Linked DNA regions of Homo sapiens: region 2 is linked to region 1. The links come from fine-mapping of genetic effects on gene expression. Tissue or cell type: aorta. Region 1 holds a variant in brackets; the other region holds the start of a gene. All regions are shown on one strand. Distances are between the middles of the regions.

The links. PIP is the estimated chance that this variant, and not a neighbour inherited with it, causes the effect.
Region 2: it holds the start of ADGRE2, and the variant in region 1 is fine-mapped to the expression of ADGRE2 in aorta (GTEx, PIP above 0.99). The same link has a PIP of 0.9 or more in tibial artery.

Annotation. Positions count from the first base shown.
Region 1 is chr19:14,385,443-14,390,442 of GRCh38, reverse strand. It overlaps ADGRE5 (adhesion G protein-coupled receptor E5), which reads right to left. Exons shown (of 20, transcript NM_078481.4): 2 at 1,943-1,993; 3 at 1,625-1,741. Among named protein-coding and RNA genes, the nearest start is that of ADGRE5, 6.5 kb to the right of the region's middle. The variant A/G (reference allele first, on the strand shown) is at 1,889.
Region 2 is chr19:14,775,802-14,780,911 of GRCh38, reverse strand. It overlaps ADGRE2 (adhesion G protein-coupled receptor E2), which reads left to right and starts at 2,352. Exons shown (of 21, transcript NM_013447.4): 1 at 2,352-2,655; 2 at 3,985-4,186. The coding sequence starts at 4,156. RefSeq lists an enhancer at 4,816-4,875.

The sequences.
Region 1 (5,000 bases):
CTGAGTCAGGAGGATCGCTTGAACCTAGGAGGTGGAGGTTGCAGTGAGCCGAGATCGGGTCACTGCACTCCAGCCTGGGTGACAGAGTGAGACTCTGTCTCAAAAAAAAAAAAAAGGAAAAAAAAACCTCATAGCCAGAATGTACCCCCTCCCCAGTCTTAAGGGTAAACTGAGGCACAGACTCCAGATTCCTGAGCACCCAGCTTCTCTCTCTCCAGGAAGCCATGCCTATTCACTTCTTACTTCTCCCCCTTCATATTCTTCCCTTATTTCCTTCCTTCCTTCCTTCCTCCCTCCTTCCCTCCCTCCCTCTTCTTTCCCTCCCTCCCTCCCTCTCTCTCTTGTTCTTTTCTTCTCTTTTTTTTTGAGACAGAGTTTCACTCTTGTTGCCCAGGCTGGAGTGCAATGGCACGGTCTTGGCTCACTGCAACTTCCGCCTCCCGGGTTCAAGCGATTCTCCTGCCTCAGCCCCCGGAGTAGCTGGGATTACAAGCATGTGCTCATGGGCCACCACACCCGGTTAATTTTGTATTTTTAGTAGAGATGAGGTTTCTCCATGTTGGTCAGGCTGGTCTCGAACTCCCAACCTCAGGTGATCCGCCCGCCTTGGCCTCCCAAACTGCTGGGATTACAGGCGTAAGCCACCATGCCGGGCCTACTTTTCTTTCTCTTTCTCTCCTTCTCTGTCTCTCTCTTTTTTTTTTTTGAGACAAAGTCTTGCTCTGGTCGCCCAGGCCAGAGTGCAGTGGCGCAATCTCGGCTCACTGCAACATTCACCTCCCAGGTTTAAGCGATTCTCCTGCCTCAGCCTCCCGAGTAGCTGGGATTACAGGTGACCACCACCACCCCCGGCTAATTTTTTGTGTTTTTAGTATAGAGAGGAGGTTTCACCATGTTGGCCAGGCTAGTCTCGAATTCCCAACCTCAAGTGATCTGTCCACCTCGGCCTCCTGAAGTGCTGGGATTACAGGCATGACCCACCATGCCGGGCCTATCTCTCTCCCTCCCTTCCTCCCTTCCTTCCTTCCTGCCTCCTTTCCTCTCCCTCTGCCTCCCCCTCCCCTTCCCCGTCTCCCTCCTCATCCCCCTCCCCTTCCCCTCCCCTTCCCCCCTCCCTCCCCCATCCCCCTCCCCTTCCCCCTTCCCCTCCCCTTCCCCTCCCCTTCCCCCTTCCCCTCCCCCTCTCCCTCCCCATCCCCCTCCCTTTCCCCCTTCCCCTCCCCTTCTCCCTCCCCCTACCCCTCTCCCTCTTCCCCTTCCTCTCCCCCTCTCCCTCTTCCCCTTCCTCTCCCTCTCCCTGAGACACGATCTCATTCTGTTGCCCAGGCTAGAGTGCAGTGGTGCAATCATAGCTCACTGCAGCCTCAAACTCTTGGGCTCAAATAATCCTCTCCCCTCAGTCTTCTGAGTACTCCTGGCCTCAAACGATCTGCCCGCCTCAGCCTCCCAAAGTGCTGGGATTACAGGCGTGAGCCACCACGCCTGCCCTCTTTTTCTTTTCTCTGGCCATGATGATAGTCTGGAAGGTAAGGCTGTGGCCCCTCACAACAACCTCTGTCCCCCACTGGCTGGGCAATGCCTCATAATCGCGGATGTCCCCTGCGCTGCCCTCAAGCCTCTGTACCGTCACAAGTCTCCGTCGGGGTGGTGATGATCTCAGAAAAAGAGCTGAACCCTGGATTGCAGCGACAGGCGGTGGCATTGACACACGAGGAGTTCTGAGGGCACCACCGGGCACAGCCTGCAAGAGCAGGGAGCACGGTCAGAAGGTGAGGGGTAAGGGAATACACAAAAAGGGGGCACTGGGGGAGATGGGGCAGGGCGCTGAGTTTCTCGTGCGCGAGCCCTCTCTTTCCCTGGGCTGAAGGGGGCTGGGCGGGGGTCCAGG[A/G]CCCTCCCCAGGCTCTGGCTGTGGACTGTGCTTTCTGCTTCCCAGCAGACTCACCCCTGGAGTCCTGGGTTTCAGCTCCCGGCAGAGTCAGCCAGACACAGAATGCTGCAACAGAGAAAGGAAAGGGGGTCAGAGGGGATCCCAGGGTGGGAAAGGAGGCGTAAGGGTGATGCACTTTGTGGGAGGAGGATGCTGACCCCTCTCAGGCTCAGATCCTGACGGTCGTTCAGAGTGAGCAGATGTCATGTCCCACTCAGATGCTCAAAGCCAAAGAGTCTGTCACCCTGTTCCCATAGGGGCGGGTTTTTTTGTTTTTGTTTTTTTTTTGACACAGGCTCCTGCTTGGTCACCCAGGCTGGAGTGCAGTGGTGCAATCATATCTCACTGCAGCCTCCAATTCCTAGGCTCAAGAGATCCTCCTGCCTCAGCCTCCCAAGTAGCTGGGACCACAGGTGTGCACTAAATTTTTTTTTCTTTTTGAGACAGAGTCTTGCTCTGTCGCCCAGGCTGAAGTGCAATGCTGTGATCTTGGCTCACTGCAATCTCTACCTCCTGGGTTCAAGTGATTCTCCTGCTTCAGCCTCCTGAGTAGCTGGGATTACAGGAGTCTGCCACCACACCCGGCTAATTTTTTGTATTTTTACTAGAGACAGGGTTTCACCATATTGGCCAGGCTGGTCTCGAACTCCTGACCTCAGGTGATCTGCCTGTCTTGGCCTCCCAAAGTGCTGGGATTACAGGCGTGAGCCACATTTCCTGACTCAAAATTTTTAAAATAAAATAATTTATCATGCCAGGCCAAAAAATTAAAAATAATTTTTTTTTTTGAAACGGAGTCTCACTCTGTCACCCAGGCTGGAGTGCAGTGGCATGATCTCAGCTCACTGCAAGCTCCGCTTCCTGGGTTCATGCCATTCTCCTGCCTCAGCCTCCCGAGTAGCTGGGACTACAGGCGTCCACCACCACACCCGGCTAATTTTTTGTATTTTTAGTAGAGATGGGGTTTCACTGTGTTAGCCAGTATGGTCTCGATCTCCTGACCTCGTGATCCACCCACCTCGGCCTCCCAAAGTGCTGGGATTACAGGCATGAGCCACTGTGGCCGGCCTAAAAATAATTCAAAAAATTATTTTACAGACAGAGTCTTGCTCTGTTGCCCAGGCTGATCTTGAACTCCTGGCCTCAAGCGATCCTCCCCGCCTCAGCCTCCCGAGCTCGGCTTGAGGGTGGAGTTTCAGGAACTGAGTAGGGAAGGGCCATGAGCCTGGTGGGGGTCTCAGCTCCAGCTGCTGCTCTTCTGACCTGGGGTGTGTGGGGAGTGGCTAAGAAAACAGACAGGAGCCAGGCATCCCCAGTTCAAATCCCAGACAGTGGGCCTCTCTGCCTCAGTTTCCCTCTGTAGAATAGGGATGATGGCGCCCACTCCCCAGTGTAGTGTGTGTGGGAGTAAACCACATGACTGCTGTCCGGTGTGCCTGAGCATTTACTGCCATCTTCATTTCTTCTTCTTTTATTTATTTATTTATTTTATTTTTTTTCTGAGACAGAGTCTCTCTCTGTCGCCCAGGCTGGAGTGCGATGGCACGATCCTGGCTCACTGCAACCTCCACCTCCCGGGTTCAAGCAATTCCTCTGCCTCAGTCTCCAGAGTATCTGGGATTACAGGCACCCGCCACCAAGCCCGGCTGATTTTTTTGTATTTTTGTAGAGACGGGGTTTCACCATGTTGGCCAGGCTGGTCTTGAACTCCCGGCCTCAAGTGATCCTCCCGCCTTGGCCTCCAAAAGTGCTGGGATTACAGGCGTGAGCCACCGTGCCCAGCCTGCCATCTTCATTTCTCTTTTTTTTTTTTTTTTTTTTTGAGACGGAGTCTTGCTCTGTCGCCCAGGCTGGAGTGCAGTGGTGCAAACTTGGCTCACTGCAAGCTCCGCCTCCCGGGTTCACACCATTCTCCTGTCTCAGCCTCTCGAGTAGCTGGGACCACAGGCTCCCGCCACCACGCCCAGCTTATTTTTTTGTATTTTTAGTAGAGACAAGGTTTCACCATGTTAGCCAGGATGGTAGTCTTGATCTCCTGACCTCATGATCCGCCCGCCTCAGCCTCCCAAAGTGCTGGAATTACAGGCGTGAGCCACCGCGCCCGGCCTCTCTTTTTTTTTTTTTTTTTTTTTTTTTTGAGATGGAGTCTTGCTCTGTTGCCCAGGATGAAGTGCAGTGGTGTGATCTCTGCTCACTGCAAGCTCCACCTCCCGGGTTCACGCCATTCTCCTGCCTCAGCCTCCAGAGTAGCTGGAACTACTGGCGCCCACCACCACGCCTGGCTAACTTTTTATATTTTTAGTAGAGAAGGGGTTTCACCATGTTAGCCAGGATGGTTTCGATCTCCTGACCTCGTGATCCACCTGCCTTGGCCTCCCAAAGTGCTGGCACAAGCCGCCAGGCCCTGCCTGCCATCTTCATTTCTTTAGGTAAAAATGAAGGCGTGGTCAGGCACAGTGGCTCATGCCTGTAATCCCAGCACTTTGGGAGGCCGAGGCGGGTGGATCACTTGAGATCGGGAGTTCGAGACCAGCCTGCCTAATATGGTGAAACCCCCTCTCTACTGAAAATACAAAAAATTAGCTGGGCGTGGTGGTGGGTGCCTGTTATCCCAGCTACTTGGGAGACTGAGGCTTGAGAATCGCTTGAACTAAGGAGGCAGAGTTGCAGCAAGCCAAGATCACGCCACTGCACTCCAGCCTGAGTGACAGAGCAAGACTCCGTCTCAGAAAAAAAAAAAAAAAAATGACGGTGTTGGATCACCCAGGCTCTGAGATGCCCTGGACCTCCACGCTTCCTCAGGGACACAGGTGCACACACACCACACCCACAACTGCCACTGGCCCTGGCGGTCTGTCCTGGAACCCAGTGGTGATATTTCACCCCCGGGCCCCCCTCCCACAGGAAGACGCTGTAGCCGCCTGTTGGGGTGCACGTGGAGTGGCGGTTCCCAGCACTCAGGGGGTTCCCCCTCCCAAGGCATGTTCTGGGGGACCCTCCTCAGGTCACCAGGGGATTCAGAGATGGGGACCTAGGGATCTCCTTGCTGTTCACCAGAGAGATAGAGACAAAG
Region 2 (5,110 bases), 390 kb before region 1:
GACACCCCGGCAGGGACCAGATCAGCGAGGCTGAAGGAGGCTTCCTTTAGCTGGGCGGCAGCGGAGTGGAGTGGCAGGAGTACTACTAATTTGCATGGTTTACCATATAGGGCCCCACTCAGCACAGGCTCTGTGCTGGTGCTCTGCAGAGAAAAAGACAAAAGTCACTCAGGGGGCTGACAGCCTAATGCGGCTCGAGGGCAGATGGTTGCTAGGGAAGAAGGGAGATGGTGAGAAGTATTGGAGAGACTCAAGAAAGCCGCCAGGAATGGTGACTCACGCCTGTAATCCCAACGCTTTGGGAGGCTGAGGCGCGTGGATCATTTGAGGACAGGAGTTCGAGACCAGCCTGGCCAACATGGTGAAACCCTGTCTCCACTAAAAATACAAAAATTATCTAGATGCGATGGCAGGTGCCTATAATCCCAGCTACTCGGGAGGCTGAGGCAGGAGAATTGCTTGAACCCGGGAGGCAGAGATTGCAGTGAGACGAGATAGCACCACTGCACTCCGGCTTGGGTGACAGAGCAAGACTTCGTCTCAGAAAAAAGTAATAATAAATAATAATAATAATAATAAAATAAAAATTTAAAAAGAATGTTTCAGGCCGGGCATTGTGGTTCACGCCTGTAATCCCAGCACTTTTGGGATGCCAAGGCAGGCAGATCACTTGAGGCCAGAAGTTCGAGACCAGCCTGACCAACATAGCGAAACTCCATCTCTGCTAGAAATACAAAAATTAGCCAGGCGTGGTGGCTTGCACCTGTAATTCCAGATACTTGGGAGGCTGAGGCAGGAGAATCTCTTGAACCCAGGAGGCAGAGGTTGCTGTGAGCTGAGATCACATCACCACACTCCAGCCTGGGTGACAGAGCGAGACTCTGTCTCAAAATAAATAAATGAATGAACAAATAAATAAAATAAAATAAAAATACAAAAATTAGCCAGGTGTGGTGGTGGGCACCTGTAGTCCGAGCTACTCTGGAGGCTGAGGCAGGAGAATCGCTTGAACCCGGGAGGCGGAGGTTGCAGTGAGTCGAGATGGCGCCACTGTACTCCAACCTGGGCAACACCAGAGTCTGTCTCTAAAATACAGTAAAATAAAATTAAATTAAGAAGAGTCGATGATCACCATGAAGGGGTGTAGGGACAATCCCTGGCATCAGGAAGTGCCACTACCTCCCTGAGATTCTGCAGACGCCAGCTGTCTGACCTGCCCGTCTGATCTGCAGAGAAGGGACGTTGAGCCCTGGGGTTCTAGCTGGAGTTTCTGGCTTTCTGAGAAAAAAAAGGCAAAATCCCTCCAGACCTGGTCTGGCCCTCTCTCCTTCCAGCTTCTGCTGGTGTTCACTCCCCTCCCCCACAGCCCAGGCCACCCCCACAGGAGCCCGGGACAGGAAGGGGTAAATTCTAGGACTGTGGATGTTTGATTATTCCCAGGACAATAGTTCTCTGACTTCAGTCATTAGTGACTTTTTTCTCCATCGCTGCAATCTCCCCCTTTGAACAACTGAACTATATTTTCCTTAGCATTCATCACTTCTGCATCTTGAATTTACTCATGTAACAAGGAGACTTGATTTCGGCATCCTCACTGAAAAACCCTCCTCATTGCCCCAGATAGTAGGGAAACCTAAAAATAAATATAAATATGAGGAACACAAAACCAAGTCCTTGAATTCTGGCTGGATACAGACACCTGCTAAGCCTCAGGGTCACGGAGGCGCTAAAGACATGTTAGTGCCCAGTGGAGACTTTCCCCTGGGCTCATCGCAGGGACTCCAGGGCTGGGCTGCCGGCCTGTGGATCTGAGTCTCAGCTGGGTGAGTCACTTGTGCCTCAGTTTCCTCCTCTGTCAAATGGGAATGACAACATCATTGCAGATGTTTTAAGGAGTAAATGAGTTAATATAGATTAAAAAAAAAAAGCACTTAGGACCAGACCTGGTACAAATTAAGTGCTCCATAAATAATAGCATTTTCTTGGCAGGATAGCGAGATCTCGTCTCTACAAAAAAAAAAAACACTTAAGGAGAAAACTAGCCAGACGTGATGGTGCACAGCTGTAGTCCCAGCTCCTCAGGAGGCTGAGGCAGGAGGATCCCTTGAGCCCTGAAGTTTGAGGCTGCAGTGAGCTGTGATGGTGACCCTGCACTCCAGCCTGGGTGACAGAGTAAGATCTCTTAAAAATATATATAGCGTTTTAAAAAATGATTACGTACCTCAAGAGACAAGCTAATCATATGATTTATCCAGAAAGGAAAGAACCCTCCTATCACATGATTCTCTGTTGATTAACGAAGTGCCCAGGGGCCTCTGAAATATAAGTTTCCCACAGGAGGAAACTGGCTTAGAAAGACCAGAAAGATCCGGGGGGTCTGCTCTGTGCGGTGAAGCTTCTCTTCTTGGCACCTGCCTGGCATCGGAAGAGGGCCCCTTCTCCCTCCCTGGGCTTTTATGTGGACACTGTAATGCCTCAGTTTTCTTTCTTTCTTTTTGTTTTTGACACAGGGTCTCACTCTATCACCCAAGCTGGAGTGCAGTGGCACCATCTTAGCTCACCGCAGCCTCAAACTCCCCAGCTCGGGTGATTCTTCCTGCCTCAGCCTCCTGAGTAGTAGCAGCTGGGACCACAGACGTCTGCCACCAAGCCCAGGTAATTTTTTTTCTTTTTGAAGAAACAGAGCTTTGCCATGTTGCCCAGGCTGGTCTCAAACTCCTGAGCTCAAGCGATCCTCCTGCCTCGGCCTCCCAGAGTGCTGGGATCACAGGTGTGGAGAAATAGGAACGCTTTTACACTGTTGGTGGGAATGTAAATTAGTTCAACCATTGTGGAAGATAGTGTGGTGATTTCTCAAGGATCCAGAACTAGAAATACCATTTGACTCAGCGATCCCATTGCTGGGTATATACCCAAAGGATTATAAATCATGCTACTATAAAGACATATGCACATGTATGTTTATTGCGGTACTATTCACAATAGCAAAGACCTGGAATCAACCCAAATGTCCATCAATGATAGACTGGATTAAGAAAGTGTGGCACATATACACCAGGGAATACTATGCAGCTATAAAAAAGGATGAGTTCATGTCCTTTGCAGGGACACAGATGAAGCTGAAAACCATCATTCTCAGCAAACTAACACAGAAACAGAAAACCAAACACCACATGTTCTCACTCATAGGTGGGAACTGAGCAATGAGAACACCTGGACACAGGGCGGGAAACATCACACACTGGGGCCTGTCGGGGGGTGGGGGCCTGGGGGAGGGATTGCATTAGGAGAAATACCTAATGTAAATGACGAGTTGATAGGTGCAGCAAGCCAACATGGCACATGTATGCCTATGTATCAAACCTGCTCGTTGTGCACATGTACCCTAGAACTTAAAGTCTAAAAAATTTAATTAATTAATTAATTAATTAATTTAAAAAGAAAGAAAGAAACCGAGCTTCGCCATGTTGCCCAGGCTGGTCTCAAACTCCTGAGCTCAAGCGATCCTCCTGCCTCGCCCTCCCAGAGTGCTGGGATCACAGGCGTGAGCCTCTGTACCTGGCCTCAGTTTCCTCATCTGGAAAACAGCAGGGGAAGATACTGCCAGCTGGGACGCAGGCTCTGCCAACTCTGGCATGCCAAAGCTCTGGGCACAGGGTGAGCCCTACCAAAGTGGGAGCCCAGAGCTATTTCTGACAAGGCCCCTGCGTGCCTGCCCAGGGAAGAGCCAAGTGGCCCCAGGCGAGACCGCCCCGCCCGGCTGCCACACCTTCCCCTGCACAGCAGCCAGCCTGGAACACACAGAGGCCAGAGGGTTGGTCAGAGCCACATGGTGGAAACTCCAGCAGAGGGATTTTTAAAGCAGGTTGCACTTCATTCTTGCTGAGCGAGTACACGTGTGTGTGTGTGTGTGTGTGTGTGTGTGTGTGTGTGTGCAGCGCCCCTGGTTCTGTGTTTTTATTGTGCTTTCCTGCTGGCTTCCAGCTGCACCGCCAGTTCCGGGGAGGGCCCTGGGCCAGCGGCTGTCCGCCCCCCCTCCTTTATAAAGTCCTGGCCTCGGGACAGCCCGCACAGCTGCCCAGCCTGCGGAGACGGGACAGCCCTGTCCCACTCACTCTTTCCCCTGCTGCTCCTGCCGGCAGCTCAGCTGGAACCATGGGAGGCCGCGTCTTTCTCGTCTTTCTCGGTAAGTACTTTGGGGCCCCGCTGGGGGTGGTAGCGAGGAAGCTCCAGCGGGACCCCTTGGATGCGTCTGAGAAACGGGAGGCGCCGCTGGTGTCTGTGGGGCCGGCGATGGAGAAAGCCACATGGTCAAGCAGGCACTCACGGGCACACGGCGAGAGGGGCTGGTGGTGCTTGGGCACCCCCACACCCCGGCAGGAACTCCAGGGTGCTCTCGGAGCCTGCTACCCTGCCCGGAGGGATCCTCAAGCTTTCTACTGGAGCCAGTTTGGCATCTGCTCCATAAGAGGGGAAACTGAGGCACGGGGGAAGGAAAGGGGCAAAAAGTGAGTGCTAGGACCCCAGAGCCACTGCTCTTAATATAGCGCATAGAAAGACATGGGCGGGGGGCGGGGAAAATAGAGGCCAGGACTTCTCCACTGCAGGGTACCCCCAGCTTCTCCCTTCTTTCTCTCTCTCTCTCTGTCTTTCTCCTTCTGTCTCTCTTTCAGTCTCTCTATCTCCCTAATCTCCGTTTTCTCTCTACCTCTGCCTCTTTGTCTCTCTCTCTGGTGAACAACAAGGAGATCCCTAGGTCCCCATCTCTAAAGCCCCTGGTGACCTGAGGAGGGTCCCCCAGGACATGCCTTGGAAAGGGGAACTTCCTGAGTGCTGGGAACCGCAGCGCCACATGCACCCCAACAGGCGGCCACAGCGTTTTCCTGTGGGAGGGGCGCCCGGGGTGAAATATCACCACTGGGTTTCAGGATGGGCCGCCAGGGCTGGCGGCGGTTGTGGTGTGTGTGCACCTGTGTCCCTGAGGAAGCATGCGGTTCCAGGGCATCTTAGAGCCTGGGGGATCCAGCGCCATCATTTTTTTTTTTTTTTTTCTGAGGCGGAGCCTTGCTCTGTCGCCCAGGCTGGAGTGCAGTGGCACGATCTCAGCTTG